3 separate regions of the Homo sapiens genome follow, and all the other regions are linked to region 1. Evidence: fine-mapped expression QTL. A gene starts in region 1. Each other region holds a variant in brackets. All regions are shown on one strand. Distances are between the middles of the regions.

What was found. PIP is the estimated chance that this variant, and not a neighbour inherited with it, causes the effect. A credible set is the group of variants that fine-mapping cannot tell apart.
Region 2: its variant is the best candidate, but not a certain one, in a credible set for the expression of SLCO5A1 in testis (GTEx, PIP 0.82).
Region 3: its variant is the best candidate, but not a certain one, in a credible set for the expression of SLCO5A1 in prefrontal cortex (GTEx, PIP 0.67).

Annotation. Positions count from the first base shown.
Region 1 is chr8:69,831,088-69,838,204 of GRCh38, reverse strand. SLCO5A1 (solute carrier organic anion transporter family member 5A1) reads left to right here and starts at 3,227. Exons shown (of 10, transcript NM_030958.3): 1 at 3,227-3,351; 2 at 5,036-6,438. The coding sequence starts at 5,532. SLCO5A1-AS1 (SLCO5A1 antisense RNA 1) reads right to left here and starts at 4,093. Exons shown (of 4, transcript NR_186568.1): 1 at 4,012-4,093. RefSeq lists silencers at 2,962-3,071, 5,162-5,251 and enhancers at 3,392-3,471, 4,902-4,971.
Region 2 is chr8:69,708,788-69,715,904 of GRCh38, reverse strand. The region is part of intron 5 of SLCO5A1 (solute carrier organic anion transporter family member 5A1); the gene reads left to right. It overlaps LOC105375889 (a long non-coding RNA gene), which reads right to left and starts at 4,369. Exons shown (of 3, transcript XR_929026.3): 1 at 4,285-4,369; 2 at 981-1,057. RefSeq lists an enhancer at 4,255-4,755. The variant G/T (reference allele first, on the strand shown) is at 4,354.
Region 3 is chr8:69,872,075-69,879,191 of GRCh38, reverse strand. No RefSeq gene overlaps it. Among named protein-coding and RNA genes, the nearest start is that of SLCO5A1, 41 kb to the right of the region's middle. The variant T/G (reference allele first, on the strand shown) is at 3,303.

The DNA.
Region 1 (7,117 bases):
TTCCTTCTCAGGTTTTACCCAACCTGAAATTCACTTCTAAGGAAGGATATACATGCCAAGTTCTATTAAGGGGCTACCTTAAAGATACAATGTGTCTCCTCTTAAACAACCAACACCTAATTCAATTATGTTACTGGCAACTATGTATTATGTTTTGCACCCACAAAATATTCTGAACCAAAAACTCAGTTCTTGTTGTATCTGGGAGACCTCTGAAGTGAACCTTCTTTAAGAAGGAAGGGAAGGGCTGTGGGAAAAGGCTCCCTTCAGCTTTCTTCTGCCCATTCTCCAGGACGGCCAGATTTTAAACCTGTAGACTGCCCTGGAAATTGCAAAGGCTACATACTTGTTATATGAAGATCAGGAAAGAAATCATTTATTTATTTATTTATTTATTTATTTTTAAAAAGAAGTCATTTATGTATAAAGTCGATGGACTTAGAAGAAGCAAACGTAAGTCTGAAAGTTTGAAGAGGGTTTACAGTCATATGCTTCCTCTCCCAAAATGCCAAACAAGGCAGGCATTCTGGTTAAAGTAACTGTAATTATTGAGTGAAATAAGGATAGTAAACACTACCATAGGGGTAGTAGAACCCCGTGATATGAGTCCATTTCTTTGTATTAATCAGACAATTACGGCTAATGAGGTGTGCTCTTCTTTTTCAAAGTCATATTTAACTGGGAAAGATAAAGCAAAAGAAATGCTTCTTGCTGAATGTTTTCTTCTTGTTTCCTATGTGAGTAAAATTGGACCTTTTAAAATTTTGTCTTTTTTAAAGTCATATTTAACTGGGAAAGATAAAGCAAAAGAAATGCTTCTTGCTGAATGTTTTCTTCTTCTTTTGTGAGTAAAATTGGACCTTTTAAAATTTTGTCTTTTTTAAAGTCATATTTAACTGGGAAAGATAAAGCAAAAGAAATGCTTCTTGCTGAATGTTTTCTTCTTCTTATGTGAGTAAAATTGGACCTTTTAAAATTTTGCTGTAAATCATGATCTATTAGTGGCAATAAAAAAATCCATAGGTTCTTAGAGTTGCATCTACTTTACGGTAACTGAGCATGAATAAAGACAGAGTGTTTCAGGGACACGATTGCTTGATTTTCAAGTAGGGAAGTCCTGTGATGTCCCCTGATGTATCACATTGAATTCACTGATGTCTGGAGCTGAGACTGAAATGAGAGAATGGGACACAGAGCTTGGAAGGAGGTAATAGGAGGTAGGTTGATTCTGTGTGGATTTAGAATCAGCTCAGAAGAGTATTTGGGTTCAGGAAGTGCCACGTATCTTTGCTCACTTTATCAGCAGTAGAGGACTAAAATCTGGGCAGGGTGGCAGCGGGAGTCCTATTGCCTGTTTGTAGAAAAGTGACTGTGCCTGATGGCGATCTCAAGAGGAGGAGACAATGGCAGGGAATGAAGAAATGCCTCGGTTGATAGGTCAGTCTTGCAGCTGCCAGAAGATTGATGCTCTCTCAGCATGGACTTCAAATACACACTGATTGTTCTTTACTGTCAACTGGCCTTAATTGTTCTCTAAGGATCGCTGTAGATACGACGGTTGTTGGACTAAAGGGAGATAATCAAAAGAATCAAGGTGCATTGACGAGTCAGGATGTTATTCAATGGCAGGAGAGAGGGTAGAGAGTCAGGGTTAAGAGGTTAAGTAAGAACATAGTCTTTTGGAGCACATTGGTTCATATTGTCTACAGAGCAGCTGTGTGCCTATATAAAGTTACTTAACCTCTCTACACTTATCACATCTGTAAAATGGAGACAATGCTTTCATTGGGCAAGGCCAAGGGCCAGTGGAGGGGCTTCGACCTGGCAGCAATGGCCAGCATGGTCACTGGTACTTGTGAGCAACCTCCTTTCCTCCATTAGAGCACTATCCTGCTCTGTCAATGGTCACAAGTGCCCTCAGATACTCTTTTTTTTTTTTTTTTTCAGTTATCATCCTGTTTGTCTTCCCTGCAGCCTGTACACATCTGACCCTTCCCTTCTTACAGTCGTCTGCTCTTTTGGCTTTTCTGATGCGTCCCACACCTCTCTGACCCTTGCTTCCAGTCTCCTTCCTTTGGCTGTACGCTGTCCTCCTAGATTCTTCACAATTTGGATGATCTTCCCTATTCATTCCATCCTTTCTCATGCCACCTTTGGGCTGATGACTACTGATCAATATTCCTAGTCCAAACCTCCTGTGTGTCCAGTGGCTTATGGGACACGTACACTGGGATGTCCCCCAAACATTTCAAACTCAACACATGTAGATGAGAACAATCTTTCTCCTAAAGCATGTTTCTCCACCTGTGCTTTTATTGGCTGTCAGGCACGTAGTCACCCAACTTGGTGCTAGAAACTTGGGAGTCATCCTACCTCGGCTGGTTTTCTTCTCTTGCAGATTGCATCAGCTGCCCAGTTCCCTCCTCTCCATGCCCCCTGCCAATGCCTCATCACATTTTGCTTTCAGACTGCCTCCCAACTCACTTCTGTGCCCGCAGTGTGGCCTCACATCTGTCTACCTGTCACTGCCAGAGCCAGCTCTCTGGTGAGGAAGTCAGAACGTCATTGCCCCCACATTATTGACAGTACACAACTTAGGAAACCCGTAGTGCCCCTTTCTACTCAGCCACTCTTGCAGTCTGGTCCTCTGCCCCATCCCTGCAATCTTCTAGGAAGCTTATCTACCTATTGACTGGCAGCACCATGCCCCCGTGCCTCTGTTCTTCCTGCTGCGTGGAAATGAAGGCTAATGGATATTGGCTACTCCAGTAGCAGGCTGCATAGATGTACCACGTTGTTTTAAGCCATTTACATGAGTATTTCCCCCACAAGCCAGAGGTTTCCTCCGACCAAGTATCTTGTCTTGTTTATCTTTGGTCCCAGAATCTACTATGGTGAATGAGACATGGTGTGTGCCCAAGGCACGGAATAAACGATCAGAAATGATTTATTTATTCAGAGTGGGCTGTCAGCTTCAGCCGCTGACTTTTCTAGAGACCGGCTCCCTCGGGGCTTCAGCGCTCTTGGGCCCCCGCAGCCACGCAGGTGAAGGGCAGCGGGGTGGCTGGCTGTGGGAGGGCTGGGCTGGGTGGCTGCCCTCGCGCCTGCGCCCTCGGCTGCTCCTCTCCGGGCGCGTCTCTGTGCGCGTGTGTCTGTTTGGAGCGGAGGAGAGGCTTGGGTGACAGGCGAGGGGTGGGGGGAAGAGTTCAGCCTGAGTCACAGTCTCATTCACTGATTTCTCTTCGGCTGGACGGAGGCTGCCTCCTCACGCGGCTCCCAACTATTCCCGTAGCTCAGTGCCCCCCTCCCGCCGCTCTACTCAGCCAGGCAGACAGACTGACAGACTCGCTAGTGAGTAGCGGCGGCTTGAGCGCCCGGGCAGCGCGGCGGGCTGTCGCCGGCGGTCTTGTCTTCCCACGGGCTCTGTGTGTGTGTGTGTGTGTGTGTGTGTGTGTGTGTGTGTGTGTGTAGGATGTGCGTGTATGTGATGTGCGCGCAGGGGGTGTCCCTGGGATTCCACGCCTGCTCCAAGAGCTCCCTGCCGGGATCCGCGTGTCCATCCGAGTCTGCGATGCTGTGAGGGCGCTCGCCTAAGCAGGGGGTTCGGACGCCCCCCGCGAGCGGCGAGAGTTTGCTGGGATTCCCCGGCTCCTCACGCAGCGGCTGGTGGGGTTCCCCGGGAAGGCGCCTGGGTAAGGCAGCGGCGGGGAAGCCCGGGATTGTGAGTGGCTGGCAGGCCGGGAATCTGGGAGCGGGTTTGGCCCAGCACAGCCGAGGGAGATGCCGGAGCGGCCACCCTTGGCCGCCCAGCCTCTCTGCCTTTCTCCCTTGCCCTTCCTCCTTTCTTTTCTCAGCAGCATCACAAAGGCGCGCTGCAAAATGAAACCCAGTGTAGTGAAGCTCGGCTGTCTCCCACCTGGTGCATATTCCGCCCCCCGTCCTTGCCCCAGGCTGGAGGAGTGGAGTGGGGGTCCCCAAGATTAGGGGCGGGGTCTTACCACGGGGGCACACCTGTTTTCGATTCTTGCTGAATTCAAGCTGGGTGCGGGATCGCGAGAGAGGTTCCAGTACGCCGGTGTGTGTGTGTGTGTGTGTGTGTGTGTGTGTGTGTGTGTGTGGCCGCGCACGCGCACACGCTCCCCAGGCCCACGCTAGCGGGGTGCGCTCAGTCAATAGCACACCTCCCCGCCGGCCCGCGTGCGCCCAGCCGGCTCCGTGGGCTCCTCGCGCGCTCTCTGACAGCGTGCCGGGATCTCTTTGTTTGGTTGTGGCTTCCCTAGCTCTCGGCAAAGCAGACGGATTTTCGGTTTCGTTTGATACCGCGCTCTGGGACTTAGTGCGGGCCACAGCCTCGAATGCCCCTGGTATTTGTAATTGAAGAGTTCTTTCGGTCAGGGGGTTATTTTTGGTGTTGGGAATAAAGAGGCAAGCATGTTGACCTTTTTGCTGCTGCCTTCGGCTTTGAATGTGTGTCTCTGGTGGAGCAGACAGATTCAAATCTAGTCGCGCACACGTGCCAACGCACACCAGTGTGCACACACATTTCTACACACGTAGTTTACCCCCACCTTCTTTTTTCCTTTTAGAAAAATTGGGACAGGGAATACATTGTGTGTCTGTGAAAAAGTTTCCTTTGTTCTTTTGGGCATTTTCTATTTTGAGTAATGGAGTAGGAGTACGGAAAGGCTGCAGTTAGTTCACTCGATTAAAAGACACTGCCTCTGAGTCAGAGCTGCCAGGTTGATAATTATTAACATATAAAAGCAAACGCAATGTTTAAGGCAGAAGGGGCGGGACGGGGGCAGGTCCGCGGCAGACAATGAGGGAGAGTCTCCGCCGACCGCCTGCTGCTTATTGTTCCGGGACTGGAGACTGCAGCCGGCTGCTGCCTAGTCCTCCGGGGCTCCGCTCCTGACTAGCTCCTCCGTCCCTCTAGGGACGGTTCGGGGTCACCTAACCCTGGTCCCCGGGGCGCTGGGACGCTAGCCCCAAGCCGCAGCCGCTCTTCGCTGACCGCCCTCTTTCTGCTTTGCAGGTCGGCAGCTTCACTCCCGAGGGTGCCGCGAGCCCAGGCGGCGAACACCCGGTACCCCTGGCGCAGCGAGGTGGGATGCTGTACGGACAGCAGCGCTAAGTGCCCCCCCACCCCCGGCGCAGGGTGCACTCGCTCCTGGCCGCGGGCCCAGCGGCGGCGGCGGCGGCGGCGGCGGAGGGGATGAGCCCGGGACGCGCGAGGCGCCTGCCTCAAGCTACCGCCCGGAGAGGGACGCCGAGTAGGGCTCATCGCAGTACCGCGCGGACCCCTGCCCCCTGTGGCACGCGGCTGCGGAGCCTTGAAGCCGTGTCTGTGATCAGGATGCACTGGGCGCCTCGCAGCTGGTGAGGATGCCCTGCTGCGCGGCCCTGCGCCCCCAGCCCCAGTCCCAGGTGGGCAAGACTGACTGGGCCCGGCTTCGGCCCCTCGTGCCGGTGGATGAAACGTGCCGGAGTGCTTGGGTGCCATCAGCTATCAAATCTGAATTCTAAGCGCCATGGACGAAGGCACTGGACTGCAGCCCGGGGCGGGAGAGCAGCTGGAGGCGCCGGCCACTGCAGAAGCTGTCCAAGAGAGGTGCGAGCCGGAGACCCTCAGGTCTAAGAGTTTACCGGTCCTCAGCAGCGCCTCCTGCCGGCCAAGCCTCAGTCCCACTAGTGGAGACGCCAACCCGGCCTTTGGCTGTGTGGATTCTTCGGGCCACCAGGAGTTGAAGCAAGGCCCGAACCCGTTGGCCCCCAGTCCCTCTGCCCCGTCCACTTCGGCGGGGCTCGGGGACTGTAACCACAGGGTGGACCTCAGCAAAACCTTCTCGGTGTCCTCCGCCTTGGCCATGCTCCAGGAGAGAAGGTGCCTCTACGTGGTCCTCACGGATTCCCGTTGCTTCCTGGTGTGCATGTGCTTTCTGACCTTCATCCAGGCGTTAATGGTCTCTGGGTACCTGAGCAGCGTAATTACCACCATTGAAAGGCGCTACAGTCTGAAGAGTTCCGAGTCGGGGCTGCTGGTCAGCTGCTTTGACATCGGGAACCTGGTGGTGGTGGTGTTCGTCAGCTACTTCGGCGGCCGGGGTCGGCGGCCCCTGTGGCTGGCCGTGGGTGGACTCCTCATCGCCTTCGGGGCAGCCCTCTTCGCCTTACCTCACTTCATCTCGCCCCCCTACCAGATCCAAGAGTTGAACGCCTCGGCCCCCAACGACGGCCTGTGTCAGGGTGGCAACTCCACCGCCACTTTGGAGCCTCCGGCCTGTCCGAAGGACTCGGGAGGAAATAATCACTGGGTCTACGTGGCTTTATTCATTTGCGCGCAGATTCTCATTGGAATGGGCTCCACACCTATTTATACCCTGGGACCAACCTACTTAGATGACAATGTCAAGAAAGAAAACTCCTCCTTGTACCTAGGTAAGACTTTCCTGTTCTCTCAGATATGTTTCACTCACACTGAAACTTACTTTCCTTACAAAAATCAAAAGGAAACATGTTCTTTCACATTTTCATGTATATTATAGATTAAAGTTCACTTTATTTTACGTTTTAGCCTTGCTGTAGTGTGTTTTCAGTTTGGGAGAGAATCAATTAGTTGAGAGTTCTTGAAACTAATTTTCAGACTCATACTTCATGTTTGTCTTTTCCCAAGTAACATAAACTTTAAACTGTGGGGTGATGCTTCTCTCTGTTGCTACCTACCTATGGAAAAGCTCCAATTTGTCAAGTTTATATTCTAATACACTTGTTGAGGAAGGAATAGCAGTACCTCATGTGTAAAGTTTTGATGATTTTCTGCTTCTATCTGCTGCTGCTTCTGATTTCTGTCCAGAGCAGCAGGGATGGTGGCGTGGCCAGACTACATACATCATGCTTTATTGCCTTCATACCTGTGTTTCTTTTCTTTTTTTTTTTTTTCTTTTTAAGATGGAGTCTTGCTCTGTCACCCAGGCTGGAGTGCAATGGCATGATCTCAGCTCACTGCAACCTCCGCCTCCTGGGTTCAAGTGATTCTTCTGCCTCAGCCCCCGAGTAGCTGGGATCACAGGTACCCATCATGCCTGGCTAATTTTTGTAGAGATGGGGTTTCACCATG
Region 2 (7,117 bases), 120 kb after region 1:
TGCATGTTTCTGTGAATATACTAAAAACATTAAACTGTACACTTTAAGTAGGCAAATTGTGTAGTATGTGAATTATAGCTCAGAGAAGCTGTCAATTAAAAAAAAGAAACACAATATGTCTAATTAGTGATGTGACTATATTTATGAAATGTCTGCTCTGGTCTTCCCTATTCACTCGGCAGAATTAATATGGTTTCTCAAGAGCAAAATTTCCACCTGGCCTTAGTGGGGCAAGGGCACTCTAATAGGTATAGTTCAGATGTGCAGACTTTTGTCTCAATTTTTTTTCCATATACAGAGTTTGAAAAATCTGCTTACTTCTCCTAGGGGAAGGGTAGCTTTGTCAGGGTTTTGCAGTTCTGCTATTAGTGGGCGTCATGACGATGAACTGTCTCGATGGAAAAGCTCCGAGGACTGCTGGATTTGGACAACAATGGACAGAGGAGAAGTTGAAAGTTGCTGACAGAAAATGGATCTTGCCCAGAGGACCTCCAAAGAGGGTTTTGTACTTGGCATGGGCCACATCTGTGGGCTTTACTTGTATGAATGGAAACCCAGTACAGAAAATTGATACCAACGTCGTTTGAGGCTTATTTTGATAGCTGAAAAAGTTAATAAGGTGCTCTTATTCTCCTGTGAAATTTCCTCTGCAAAGGCTCCCTACCCACCTTTCCAGTAGTTTGCTTAGCGGTTTTCACCTTCAGTTTCCCAGCACTAGGGAAAACGGAAGTAAATACTGTGATTTTTGCATTTCATCGTTTCAAGTGGTTTTTGCCCTCTGTGGGTTTATCGCGTGGATGCAGAAAATTCTTTTAGGTTTGTAAGCCATCAAAGATGAAATATTAATTTGATTTGATTTTTGAATCCCTTTCATAAAACAGCTCAGCATTCTCTTTTATGCATTATTTCAGCCAGAGCTTTACAGAAACCTGAAATGAAAAGCATGGTTGTTTTCACTGTTGAATGTTCCTTTTTATTACCTTTCCTTCAGTGATCCCCAGACCTTGAATCCTGAGATTGGGGTTCTCATATTTCTCTCCTACTGCACAGTGTCTCCCTGTGTTGGTAAAGAGTTGAAGAAAGTGTTATTATGAGTGAATGAGATCCGTCTGGCCTAAGAGGAGTTAAATATGGGCTTTATATAAATATCTCCCTGTTGAAGTCATTGAGGCTAAGGTTTTTAGAAGTGTGTAATTCCTTTGAAAGCCTTTACTAAAAATTTCAGCAAGGCTACGCTAGAAATTCAAGGACATTCTCTTTTGGTTAGCTGTAAGTGGTCCCATGGGAGCCACACTATGATTGTCACGGGGAACCTGACAGAGGAAACTGAGGCTGATGAAGTCTACTTCTGTCTCCTCTAACTGAAGTTATAGAGGGGCAAAACTTGAGACAGCTGGGGTGCAGCAGCTTTGAGCCAGGCGAGCTATCCCCCCAGCTTATCTGCCTCAAGAGAACTCCTAAAAGAACTTACTGTAAGTTCTTCTACTCTGCCTAAAGGCTTCTTCAGGTACTGGCAGCTTTGACTGCAACAAATGCTCAACGCATGCAGGCTGCCTTTCCTAATCCTAAGTCCAAATAGGGATTTGCTACCCCTCCTTTAAGTTTTGGCTTGAAGCTATGCTGTGAAATATTATGGCTTTAGAGAAAAAGTTTGTTCTCTGCCTTAAACAGCCACTGAGTTCAAAGAAAAAGGTACCTTAAATTAATTCTAATGATACATCTTGTTCATTGTTTATGAAGGGATTGCTGAAATTTTTTACAACAGTAAGATTGAGATATATGAAAGAGAAAGAGATATACTGTGCTTTTAAACTTTGTGGAGTCATTTATAGTTTGTGAGAATGTATACTTATCGCGCTGTCTCTTCTCAGATCAGTTAAAATTTGCTAGCTTCAAGGTTTGGGTTTTTTAAATAATCTTTTTAGTAGTTTGCTTCTGACAGTAGTTGATACTTATTTCCTACAAGAAAATGTTTGCAAGAGAAAATGGAAGCTCAAAAGGGTAAAATTATTTATTCTGAGCAAGAGGAAAAGATGTCTTTTGAATCATCGGGTTAGAAGCTTAGGCTTTAGAAAAGTGAAATAACCTTGAGTCAGTTTCCTTGCTCTAGAACTCTTTAGGTGTTTCTTCCTCTGTGATGTGGAGAGAATGCTGTATTCCTTCCAATCTGTCACACTTTTGCTGGCAAGATGCACCATGATTTTGAGTTATTATGAAAGAAAAATGCTTCTAATTAGATTATGACATAAGGCTTGCATACTATTGATTGTAAGACACACTTTGGGTTCAGAGCATAAAAATCTGTAACATTTGAGAATTAAATGAGATACTGTATTTAGATCAGTTATCACAGTACCTGGCATGTAATCAACATCTGTGTGTGTATGCAGTTGTTTGTGGGTGTGTGGGTGTGCACTTGCACACACACAAAAAAGGGAGGAGGGAGGGAGAGAGAGAGAGAATGAATGAGTGAATAAATGGTACTTTCTTCTTTTCTAGGTACTCATTCTGCTTTCTTGTCCGTCCCATGTGCCCAGCCAGGCAACAGCAGAATCCACATGTCATGATGGCTTACAATGATATTCCTTAATTATTGATAGTCTCATGTTTGCAAGCCATTTATTTTCAACAGAACTTAAGAAAACTTTGGACATGGAAAACACAGAAAGGGCAGTGAAACTAGAGCAAAGAAATGACAATGTCTAAGATTCTAAGAGCCTGTCTTTATTAATTTAAGTCACCATGGTTGGATATTCTGTACCACTGTAATTTCACAACAGATAAGAGGTTTCAGAGACTGATATCGTACTCTGCATTTCCTTTGGTGGCTTGGCAGTTTAAGCTTTTGCTAATAATGTTCAATTCAGAATCTTGGTAAAAGTGAGATTTTTCAGGCACCATCTAGATATTTAGTGCTTATCAGTTTTAAACTGATTTTAGCAATTTATTTTAACCTCAAATTAGATCTTAGATTATCTATTTGTAAAATGGGATACAACCTAGTTCCAGGAATAATTGAAAATGGAAATTAATGAGCAAATCACTTAAAGATTTTATATAATAAATTCAAAGTTATATAAGATTTTATATAATAAGTTCAAAATGAATGTTTGTTCTTTCATCCAAACACACACTAGGCGTTGGTCAGTGCTAAATAAATAGGAGGATACTGAAAATATAGACAAGAACCTTAAAGAAAGATAACAGAAAGATAGAGAATAAACACAATAGGAGTGACAGGTGTGATGAGAGGGGCTAGCGCTGGGTACCATAAAAGCACATTGTTGTTGTCTTAACAATAGCAACAATAGCACAATTGAAGCTCCCTGAACCTATAATACATTCTTGATAATGAATGGGTTGCCTAATTTTGTTCTCTCCTTTGGTTCAGGTTTTCCTGTGCTCCAAATCATGCTTTAAGCTCCCGTATATTTTCTGTGTCTATTTACAATACAAATTGGCAAAAATTGGAGCGAAAGAGGAAAAATTCAGTCATTAGCTTTTATATTTGGTAATTAAATAAATATTAATTTTTCATAAAGACCCTTTGGCTCCATGCAGCCACAAAATTGGGGTCCAGAATAAAAACGTCAAAATCGAATGTTGTGGCATAATAGTGCTTGACAGAGAAAGAAAGAAAGTAGGACAATTAATGTCTATTTGCTTGGATAAATGACTAGATAAAAGATTTCCAGCTGGAAAGCAGCAGGATATTCCCAGACCTTTTATGAGCAAAGCAGAATCTTCTGCATTGTCAGCACTTAATGTTGCAGTGAGTTCTTTAGATTCAGATAAAAGACATGCTGCTAAATATCTAAGAGTTTTATGTGTTAAGAACACATAGTAAGTAAATATCAAAGGTTTGTATATTTAAAGAACACATAGAGGTTTATGTTGGGCCACTAATAGATTGCTTAAATTCAATTCTATAGATTAAATAGCATATAGGAATTTGCCTAATTATAATTCCAATATATATGTGCAAATTTAAACTCATAATATTAGGCAGATAATGAAATTCATGCTTGTTAAAATGATGATGATGATGGCCAGCATTTATTGAGTGTATGCTGTTGGTCAGACACTGTTCGAAGCCTTTCACAGGTCTTAATTCATTTAATCCTAACAATCCTATGAAGAATATACTATTATAATCCACATTTCAGAGAGGAGAAAATCCGAGGCCTGGAAATGTTCAGTAATTTGCCTGAAGACATGCAGCTTGTAAGTGGCTGAGCTGAGATTTGAACTTAGGGGATCTGGCTACATAGCCCAGACTCTTACCTGGATCTGCCTCTTGAACATATGGAATTGCGTTGGGTTCTCTCCTCTACGGCTGGCACCTCGGGCCTC[G/T]GGTGCCTGGGCTTGGTGCATCTTCCCACGCTCTGCCCCCCTTGCCCTCCCCACCGAACATATGGAAGTGTCCTTGGGTATCCATCCATTGATGGCCTTTTCCCCACCTGCTTTTCTCCTGCGCTCCCCAGGTCTTGGCCATTAGAGGGCGCTGGAGCAGGAACTCGGGGGTCCCTCCGAGGCTGGGAACGCGGCAGGGTCGGGGCAGAGGCGCAGAGAGGTGAGGTGCGCAGTGGTGAGAGGCGCAACGGAGCGGCGAGCTGACTCTTTGGGACCTGGGGACAGAGGGAAGGGAAAGAGGGCACCAGCCAGGGACGTGAATTTGAGCTCAGAGAGGGCTAGCGGCAGGACCGTAACTTCTGCCGGGAGAACCCATCTTTTCTATTTATCTTTTCCACCCCCAATAGGGAGTGGGCAGGCGGGGAGGCCTGGATGGCGCGTGGTGGTGGGTGGAGAAACTGACTCGCAGCCGCTCCATAAGCTCACCCGGAACTACTAGAGCTGCTGTACCTGGAGCCAGGGGCTTTGAGTGGGGGGGACAGTATGAAGGCTCTGAACTGTCCGACCCCATCCCTGCTGCTCGTCCCAAGACGCGTATAATTCCCCAAAGCAAACTTCGGATCTTTCTCTGATCGGAGATCCAAGCAATGTCCATATTCGCGTAAATGAGTGGTCAGACCTTTCTGTTTTGATAGTGCAGCGAGATACAGATGATGGGGGCGCCGAAGAACATTTTCATGGGTCTTCACTCTGTTTGGTGTGCCCTCATATTTACTGATGACACGTGTTCTATTTTTGAGAGCCTAATGCTAATTAGGATGCATAATCAAATAAATTATGCTGCTGTTTAATTATGACTCAGCTACCAGCACGGAGATTTGTTATCCTGAGGCTGTAGTACAGTATCCGCGGCTCCATAATTGCTTAGTTGAAATTGAAATTTTATGAATAAAACGTTTTCATTCTAAAGGTAAATTAATCACATTGATAGCATGTATACGTTTTCTTGGTGAGGAGGGTACTTTATTCTCCAGCTCATCTCACCCTAGAGCTCTGGGTGAGATTCCAGGGACCTATTGGGTGTAAGAGGTCGCTGTGATAATTAGGGCCCAGCTTGGGGCTGGGAACAGAAAATGTCAGTTTCTATCCAAACTTCCCTTTTTGTGCTGTGCACTATAGAGCAGGCCACTTCCCTGAGCCTTCAGTCTCCTCATCTGTAAAAGGGCCATTGCCGGTCGGGCGCGGTGGCTCACTCCTGTAATCCCAGCACTTTGGAAGGACGAGGTGGGTGGATCACCTGAGGTCAGGAGTTCGAGAACAGCCTGGGCAATATGGTGAAACGCCATCTCTACTAAAAATACAAAAATTAGCCGGTCGTGGTTGCCAGCGCCTGCAATCCTAGCTGCTTGAGAGGCTGAGGTAGGGGAATCACTTGAACCTGGGAGGCGGAGGTTTCTGTGAGCCGAGCTCACACCACTGCACTCTAGCCTGGGCGACAAGAGTGAAACTCTGTCTAAAAAAAAAAAAAAAAAGCTGTTGCCGATTTCACAGGACTCTGGTGAGGATTACAGGATGAACACTAGCTACCAGGCAAAACTGACTTTAAGTTAATCTCAGTCTTCCTCTGCTTCTCTTTGTGGGTTGTTGAACATGCCGGAGCATGCAACCGTGCAAGTGAATGCAGCTGCAAGCTTCTGGTGTCCAATATTGTCTGGACCCATATTACCCTCTATTACATATTCTTAGTAGTGCCGACTTCACTTTCCCATCACGGTTTTTCCAACCCTTGGCCACAATTAAAATTCTCAATATCTCTTCCTTCTAAGAGGTGGTTTTGTTTTCAATTATACAGAAAAGAAACCAACAAAAATCAAAGGTATAAAAAATGAATCTACAGCATGTTATGAATTCTCGGAGGAAAAACGTCTGCAATGAAATATGCCAGAATGCAATCAGTGTATATTTGTTCCTTCCTACTTTTCTGTTTTCCTTCCTACTTTTCTGTGTTTTTCAACTGTTTTGTTACAATATGTATTACATTATGTTTACAGAATAATGGAAAAATAAAACAGAAAAACTAACATTGTAAAGCTACTACTCACCCACGGATTTATCCTCTGTTCTAGCCCAGAGAAAGGAGTTTCTCTCCCCCTATTCAGGGCTAAGTTGATTATCTGTGCTATTAATTCTATGTTATCCTGACTTCTCAAGGATCTTGCATTGTCATTAGCTGAAATTTCCCCTCCACATTCAACCATTCATTCCCTTTTTAGTTTATTTTCCTCAGTATATAAATGTGTTTAAGTCCTCTCTGCATCCTAGCAAACAGATAAAACCCTCCAAACCTCAACCCTGCCTTGTTCCCAGTCTAATTCTAGACCCATATCCCTTCTTCCTTTTATATGCAAAGTTCTAGAAAGAGCTGACTGGATTCTCAAACTCTAGGGACTCATGACTGACTACTCAACCCATCGCAGTCTGGTTTCTACCTGCATGACACTCTTAAAATTGCTCTTGTCAGAGGTCCAGTGACACATTGTCTCACTTCAGTCTTTCTTACTGGACTTCTCTAAGGCACTTGATACTGTTGTCTATTTTCTCCTTGAAACTCTCTCCTTGGTTTCTTGGTTTTCTTCTTTTTTTTTGAGATGGAGTCTCACTCTGTCACCCAGGCTGGAGTGCAGTGATGCAGTCTCAGCTCACTGCAACCTCTGCCTTTTGGGATCAAGCAATAATTCTCCTGCCTCAGTCTCCGGAGTAACTG
Region 3 (7,117 bases), 41 kb before region 1:
TCCATATGAACTTTAAAGTAGTTTTTTCCAATTCTGTGAAGGAAGTCATTGGTAGCTTGATGGGGATGACATTGAATCTGTAAATTACCTTGGGCAGTATGGCCATTTTCAGGATATGGGTTCTTCCTACCCATGAGCATGGAATGTTCTTCCATTTGTTTGTATCCTCTTTTATTTCTTTGGACAGTGGTTTGTAGTTCTCCTTGAAGAGGTCCTTCACATCCCTTGTAAGTTGGATTCCTAGGTATTTTATTCTCTTTGAAGCAATTGTGAATGGGAGTTCACTCATGATTTGGCTCTCTGTTTGTGTGTTGTTGGTGTATAAGAATGCTTGTGATTTTTGCACATTGATTTTGTATCCTGAGACTTTGCTGAAGTTGCTTATCAGCTTAAGGAGATTTTGGGCTGAGACACTGAATAGACATTTCTCCATGGAAGACATACAAATGGCCAATAAGCGCATGAATGGGTAGATGATCAACAGTATTAATAATTAGGGAAATGCAAATCAAAACCACATTGAGATACTACTTAATCCCTACTGGGATGGCTAAAGTAAAAGACAGACATTAACAAGTACTTACAAGGATGTAGAAAAATTTGAATGCTTATACATTGTTGGTGGTAATGCAAAATGATATACCAACTTTGGAAAACAGTTTGGCAGTTCCTCCAAATGTTAAACATAGTTGCCATATGACCCAGCAATTCCACTTTTAGTTATATTCTCGAAGAAATGAAAATATATATCCACAAAGAAACCTTATACATGAATGTTCATAGCAGCATTATTTATAATAGCCAAAAAGTAGAAACAACCCAGATTTCCATCAATTAAGGAAGATTTATATATATATATATATACTCGGGAGGCTGAGGCAGGAGAATCACTTGAACACGGGATATGGAGGTTGCAGTGAGCCGGGATCACACCATTGCACTCCAGCCTGGGTAACAGATTGAAGCTCCATCTCAAAAAATATGTATATGTAGTATTCTCATTTCACAGGCCCACAGATGGAGAAGGATTTTTCCACAGGATGGTTCATATGCAGAGTCTCACTCATACCTGACTTAGATACCAAGATTTGAAACTTTTGAGCTGATGAGATTTTGGACTTAGTGTTGATGTTGCAATCATTGAGATTTTTTGAGGATTTTGGGATGGATGAATGTATTTTGCAAGTAGGTTAGATGTGAACTTTTGAAAGTCTGAGGATAGACTGTAGTGGATTGAATGAGCCCCCCTCAAAAGATATATTTATATCCTAATCCACCATACCCGTGTATGTTACCTTATTTGGAAAAGAGGTCTTTGCTGATGTACTTAAATTGACTATCTTGAGTTGAGATTATCCTGGATTATCCAAATAGGCCAGAAATTCAATGACAAGTGTCCTTATAAGAGTCACACAGAGGACAGAGAAGAGGAGAAGGCAATGTGACCACGGTGGCAGAGATTGGAGTGATTTGGCCACAAACCAAGGAATGCCTGGAGCCACCAGTAGCTGAAAAGCAAAAAGGAACAGATTGTCCATCTATTTGAGCTTTTGGAGGGAGTGCAGCCCTGCTGACACCTGATTTTAGACTTTATTTTTTTTTTTTTATTCAGGGCCTCCCTGTGTCACGCAGGCTGGAGTGCAATGGTGCAAACATGGCTTACTGAAACCTCAACCTCCAGAGTTCAAGCAGTCCTCTTGCCTCAGCCCTCCTGAGTAGCTGGGACCTTAGGCGTACACCACCACACCTAGCTAAATTTTTTTTTTGGTAGAAATAGAGGTTCACTGTGTTGCTGAGGCTGGCCTGAAACATCCGGACTCAAGGAATCTTCCTGCCTCATCCTCCCAAAGTGCTGGGATTACAGATATGAACCACCATGCTCAGCTCAGACTTTTGGTTTTGAAAACCGAGAGAAAATAAATTTCCATTGTTTTAAGCCACCCAATGTGTGGTGGTTTGTTACAGCAGCAACAGGAAACTAGGACAGATTTACTTTGCAAAGTCAAAGTAGCCAGTTACAAAAGTCTAAATATTGTTTGATGTTATTTATATAAAATGTCTAGAATAGGCAAATCTATAGAGACAGAAAGTAGGTAAGTGGGAGAAAGAATGGGAGAGACTGCTGATTGGTATGAGATTTTCTTTTGGGGTGATAAAAAGTGTTCTGAAATTAGATAGTGGTGATTGTTGCGTGATTCTGTGAATATAACAAAAATCAGTAAGTTTTGTACTTTATTATTTATTTTTTTAGAGATGGGATCTCTCTGTGTTGCCCAGGCTTGTCTTGAACTCCTGGCCTCAAGCGATCCTCTTGCCTCAACCTCCTGAAGTAGCTGGCTTACAGGTGCAATCTACCACACCCGGCTCTGAATTTTGTACATTTTTTTTGTCTTTTGACAAAACCAAATGGGTTGTGGAATGAATTTTGTGCTTTAAAAGATTAATTTTATGGTGTGTGAATCATATTTTAACAAAGCTATATAAAACATTTTGGCCAAGTGTGGTGGCTCACACCTGTAATCTCAGCACTTTGGGATGCCAAGGTGGGCTTGCTTGAGGCCAGGAGTTCAAGACCAGCCTGGGCAACATAGTGAGACTCCAGCTCTATAAAAAACATAAAAACTTAGCTGGGCATGGTGGGGCGCACCTGTGGTCCCAGCTACTTGGGAGGCTGAGGTGGGAGAGGATCACTTGAGCCTGGGAGGTTGAGGCTGCAGTGAGCTGTGGTTGTGTCATTGTACTCCAGCCTGAGTGACAGAGTAAAACCCTATCTCAAAAAAGAAATCAATGTGGTTTTCTTAACTTATTGATTTTATATTTATATCTTTTTAAGTTGGAAATTGAAAAAATAAGATTAACATATTTATTTGCTTGATCCTAGTAGACACATAAAAGGGCTTCAAAATTACAATGTCAATATTATCACATCATTACAGCAATAAAAATATGAGGCGAATTTTGAGAATTTTTTAGGTAGTTCTTTATTTTTAGACTACATCCCACTAAAGAAGGAACTGTCCAAAAGGTGTCTAAAACTCACTTGAAATAAATTTTTGCTTTGTGTCAGTATGTTGCTCACTGGATATAGAATTAAGTTTTCTTTTTCCCAATTTTAGGGTTTCTTTCCCTTTTTGATGTAATTTTACCTATTTCATGAACATTTAAAACATTTAAGTAGGTAAAAACTCAAAATTATATAAAAAGGCATATTCAGAAAAGTCTTACTACCATCTCTATCCTTCTCCTTATTCCCCACTTTCTAACCCCCATACAACTAGCTCTATTAGTATTCATTTCTGATT[T/G]ATCTTTCTAGAGTTTCTGGAAAAATAAGCAAAACTAAAAACACACATATATAGTGTGTATATATAATACATATATTGTGTATATATAGTCTTATTTTACCTATTTTCTTCCTTCCTTCCTTCTTTCCTTCCTTCCTTCCTTCCTTCCTCCCTCTCTTTTTCTTTTTTTCTTTCTTCCTATATTTAAAAAAATTTCATAGAGTTCCTGTGTCACTCAGGCTGGTCTTGAACTCCTGGGCTTGAGTGATCCTCCTGACTCAGCCTCCCAAAGAGCTAAGTTTATAGGTATGAGCCACTGTGCCCAGTCTACCTCCTTTCTTATATAAAATATAGCATTTTATGTATACTGTTGATATGATTTGGCTGTGTCTCCATGCAAATCTCATCTTGAATTATAGTTCCCATAATCCCCATGTGGGATCTGGTGGGAGGTAATTGAATCATGGAGGGAGGTTCCCCCATCCTGTTTTCATGCTGGTGAGTTGGTTCTCATGAAATCTGATGGTTTTTATAAGGGGCTTCCCGCTTTGCTGGGCACTCATTCTTTTCCTTCCTGCCATCATATGAACAAGGACGCATTTGCTTCTCCTTCTGCCATGATTGTAAGTTTCCTGAGGCCTCCCCAGCCATGCTAAACTTTTAACCCTTTTTCCTTTATAAATTACCCAGTCTTGGGTATATCTTTATTAGCAGTGTGAGAACAGACTGATGCAACTGTAGTGCATTTTTTTTTCACTTAATATGTACTGGAAACTACCCCTTATCAATACATAGAAATCTTACTTATTTTTTCCATGACTGCCTATATTTCATTGTGGGGGTAGTTTATTCAGTCATTTTTTAATTGGTGAAACATTTGGGTTGTTTCCAGTCTTTTGCTGTCACAAACAGCTCTGCAATTACTATCCCAGTGAATATTTTGTTTAGTATTTATGTAGATTCAGGATAGATTCCTAGAAGTGAGATTGCTGGGTCTAACGGTAAATGCTTCTTTAATTTATTCCTGTCAGCAATGTATGAGAGAGCTGGTTTTTCCCCAGGCTTATCAGCCAAATGAATTGTCAACCTTTGGATTTTTGCCAATCTGACATGTGAGAAATTATATCTCACTGCATTTTGAATTTGCATTTCTCTTATGAATTGAGGTTAAGCATCTTTTCCACATGTTAACAAGCAAATGACCTGTCTTTTTCTGAGATTTCATTATATTTTGTTTTTTAGAGATGACGTCTCACTGTATTACCTGGTCTTGAACTCCTGGCTTCAAGCGATCCTCCCGCCTCAGACTCCTGAGTAGCTGGGACTACAGGCTGGTTATGTTTTTAAAACCTTTTTCTATAGGTATCTTTGTCTTTTTTAACCCTGAAATTCTAAGAGCTTTTGTATGTTAGTTCTTTGTGATGTAAGTTGTAAATATTTTCTTATAATCATTTATCTCTTAACTTTTCCTTGTCGCTTTTGAAATGGCAAAAATAACATAACAAAAATTAAAGAAAAAGTCATATTATTCCATGGCCTCAACATAACTATTTTTACTTTGCGAATGCCCTCCTAGATATGCCTAGATTTATGTTTAGGTCTAATCAATTCTAATCACTGGTCACATCTTTTGGATTCTGCTTTTATTACTTAAGATTAGGGGATAACTCGCTTGGATGGGTCACATTCTAACTGATTAATTTGTTGACACGTGGCAATTACTTAAAATCAGCGTGCTCAGGTGTCTGGAGTCCTGATTCGCTTCCACACTTCTCAAGGTCACTGGAAATTGCAGGAGGGAATCAAATCCTCCCCAGCACTTGGAAGGCTGAGTCAGTTCTGTGGCCAAAAACAACTGGATGCCAGACTGCCATTTGGAGTTTTAGGACTAGTTAATTCCAAGGCTTTTATGTCTGTCCTCAGTCACCACCCCCAAGTGCCAGCGGCTGGAAGACTCAGTCCGTCCTCCCCTGTTCCCTCATTTTAATAGGCTGCTGCTTCCGACATGTACACAGTGATCTCTCTTTCTCCCCGTCTCCTCTCTTCCTCCTCCCCTTTCTGAGTCTTGGCCTTTTATAAAGAACATCACATTTATAGTTGTTAGTGTGGAGATAATTTACTAAGTGTTTAAATTGCGTCTAATCTAATTTTTCTCCTGGTAGCGGAGGAGGTTAGCGTTTCTATCTGCATGTACCCCGACCCCCTACAACCTTGCTTTCAATATTTTTCTTTGGCAAGTGCAAGGTGACCAGATTCAGAATTCTGAATAAATAAACAGCAAAATTTTATGATTTCTTTTTTTTAAAGCTTAAAAGCTTTTTTTGGGCCAGGCACGGTGGCTCACGCCTGTAATCCCAGCACTTTGGGAGGCTGAGGCGGGCGGATCACGAGGTCAGGAGATCGAGACCATCCTGGCTAACACGGTGAAACCCCGTCTCTACTAAAAATACAAAAAATTAGCCGGGCATGGTGGCGGGCAACTGTAGTCCCAGATACTCAGGAGGCTGAGGCAGGAGAATGGCATGAACCCGGGAGGCGGAACTTGCAGGCGGAGCTTGCAGTGAGCCGAGATCGCGCCACTGCACTCCAGCCTGGGCGACAATATGAGACTCCGTCTCAAAAACAAACAAACAAACAAACAAACAAAAAACCTCTTTTTGATGTACCATAAACACCTTGGGCATCTAAATTATCTGTAGAAAATACATCGAGCGGCCGGGCGCGGTGTCTCACGCCTGTAATCCTAGCACTTTGGGAGGCCGAGGGGGGCGAATCACGAAGTCAGGAGATCGAGACCATCCTGGCTAACATGGTGAAACCCCGTCTCTACTAAAAATACAAAAAAATTAGCCGGGCGAGGTGGAAGGCGCCTGTAGTCCCAGCTACTTGGGAGGCTGAGGCAGGAAAATGGCGTGAGCTCGGAGGCGGAGCTTGCAGTGAGCCGAGATCGCGCCATTGCACACTCCAGCCTGGGCGACAGAGCGAGACTCCGTCTCAAAAAAAAAAAAAAAAAAAAAAGAAAATACATTGATCTTGTTTTTAAGTCTTATTTTTAGAACGACAGTTACAGAAGGATTATAACCATATTTTAATTTGAGTGCATTTCTCATTGCCCCGTTTTTTTCTTCATATTAAATAGGAGAATATTTGTATATATACACATGTGTATGTATGTATGTATGTACGTATGTATACATATATTTTGGGGAGGTAGTTTTTTAAAGATGACCGTATAGGATACACCTCTTCTCCCCGTGCCTCTATTTCTTCTTCAGTCCCACTATTTCGGAAGAACTTTGAAAGCTATGGGACTATTAACAGTGGGGATATCTCTCTACAGTATGCTATGGTTCACAAATGCTTGAGTACATTATTTTGTTGGACTCCAGACAGTTATTTCTCTGATAGCTTAATTAACAGAATTTGTCAAACTTTAGAAAACTCTGAAGAGCTTGTCTAAAGTGTTTGCAAAGACTTTAAATTTTAACCTTCACTCAAAATCTTCATGAATTGTCTCAGTAGGTAGTAAAGATAATGAACCGAAAAACAGCCTGTGTCTGGCTTTGCATCTGGCACCATTTATCTGTACTTCTACATGTCCAGGAACTGCTTTACATATGGACCTAAGCATTTGCAAAATCTTTTCACAATTTTGCTTTTCAAGGTCTAAGGTGTTAATTGGGAGATTACTATGGTAATCCAGTAACGATAATCATTATCCTGAAAAATTAGGGAAGACTTTTCTTCTAACCTGCTTACAGTGCTTTTAATTAAAAGGAAGAGCAGATGATGTGGGCTATTTCTATCTTAATGAAGGTTCATTCATTAGTACCATT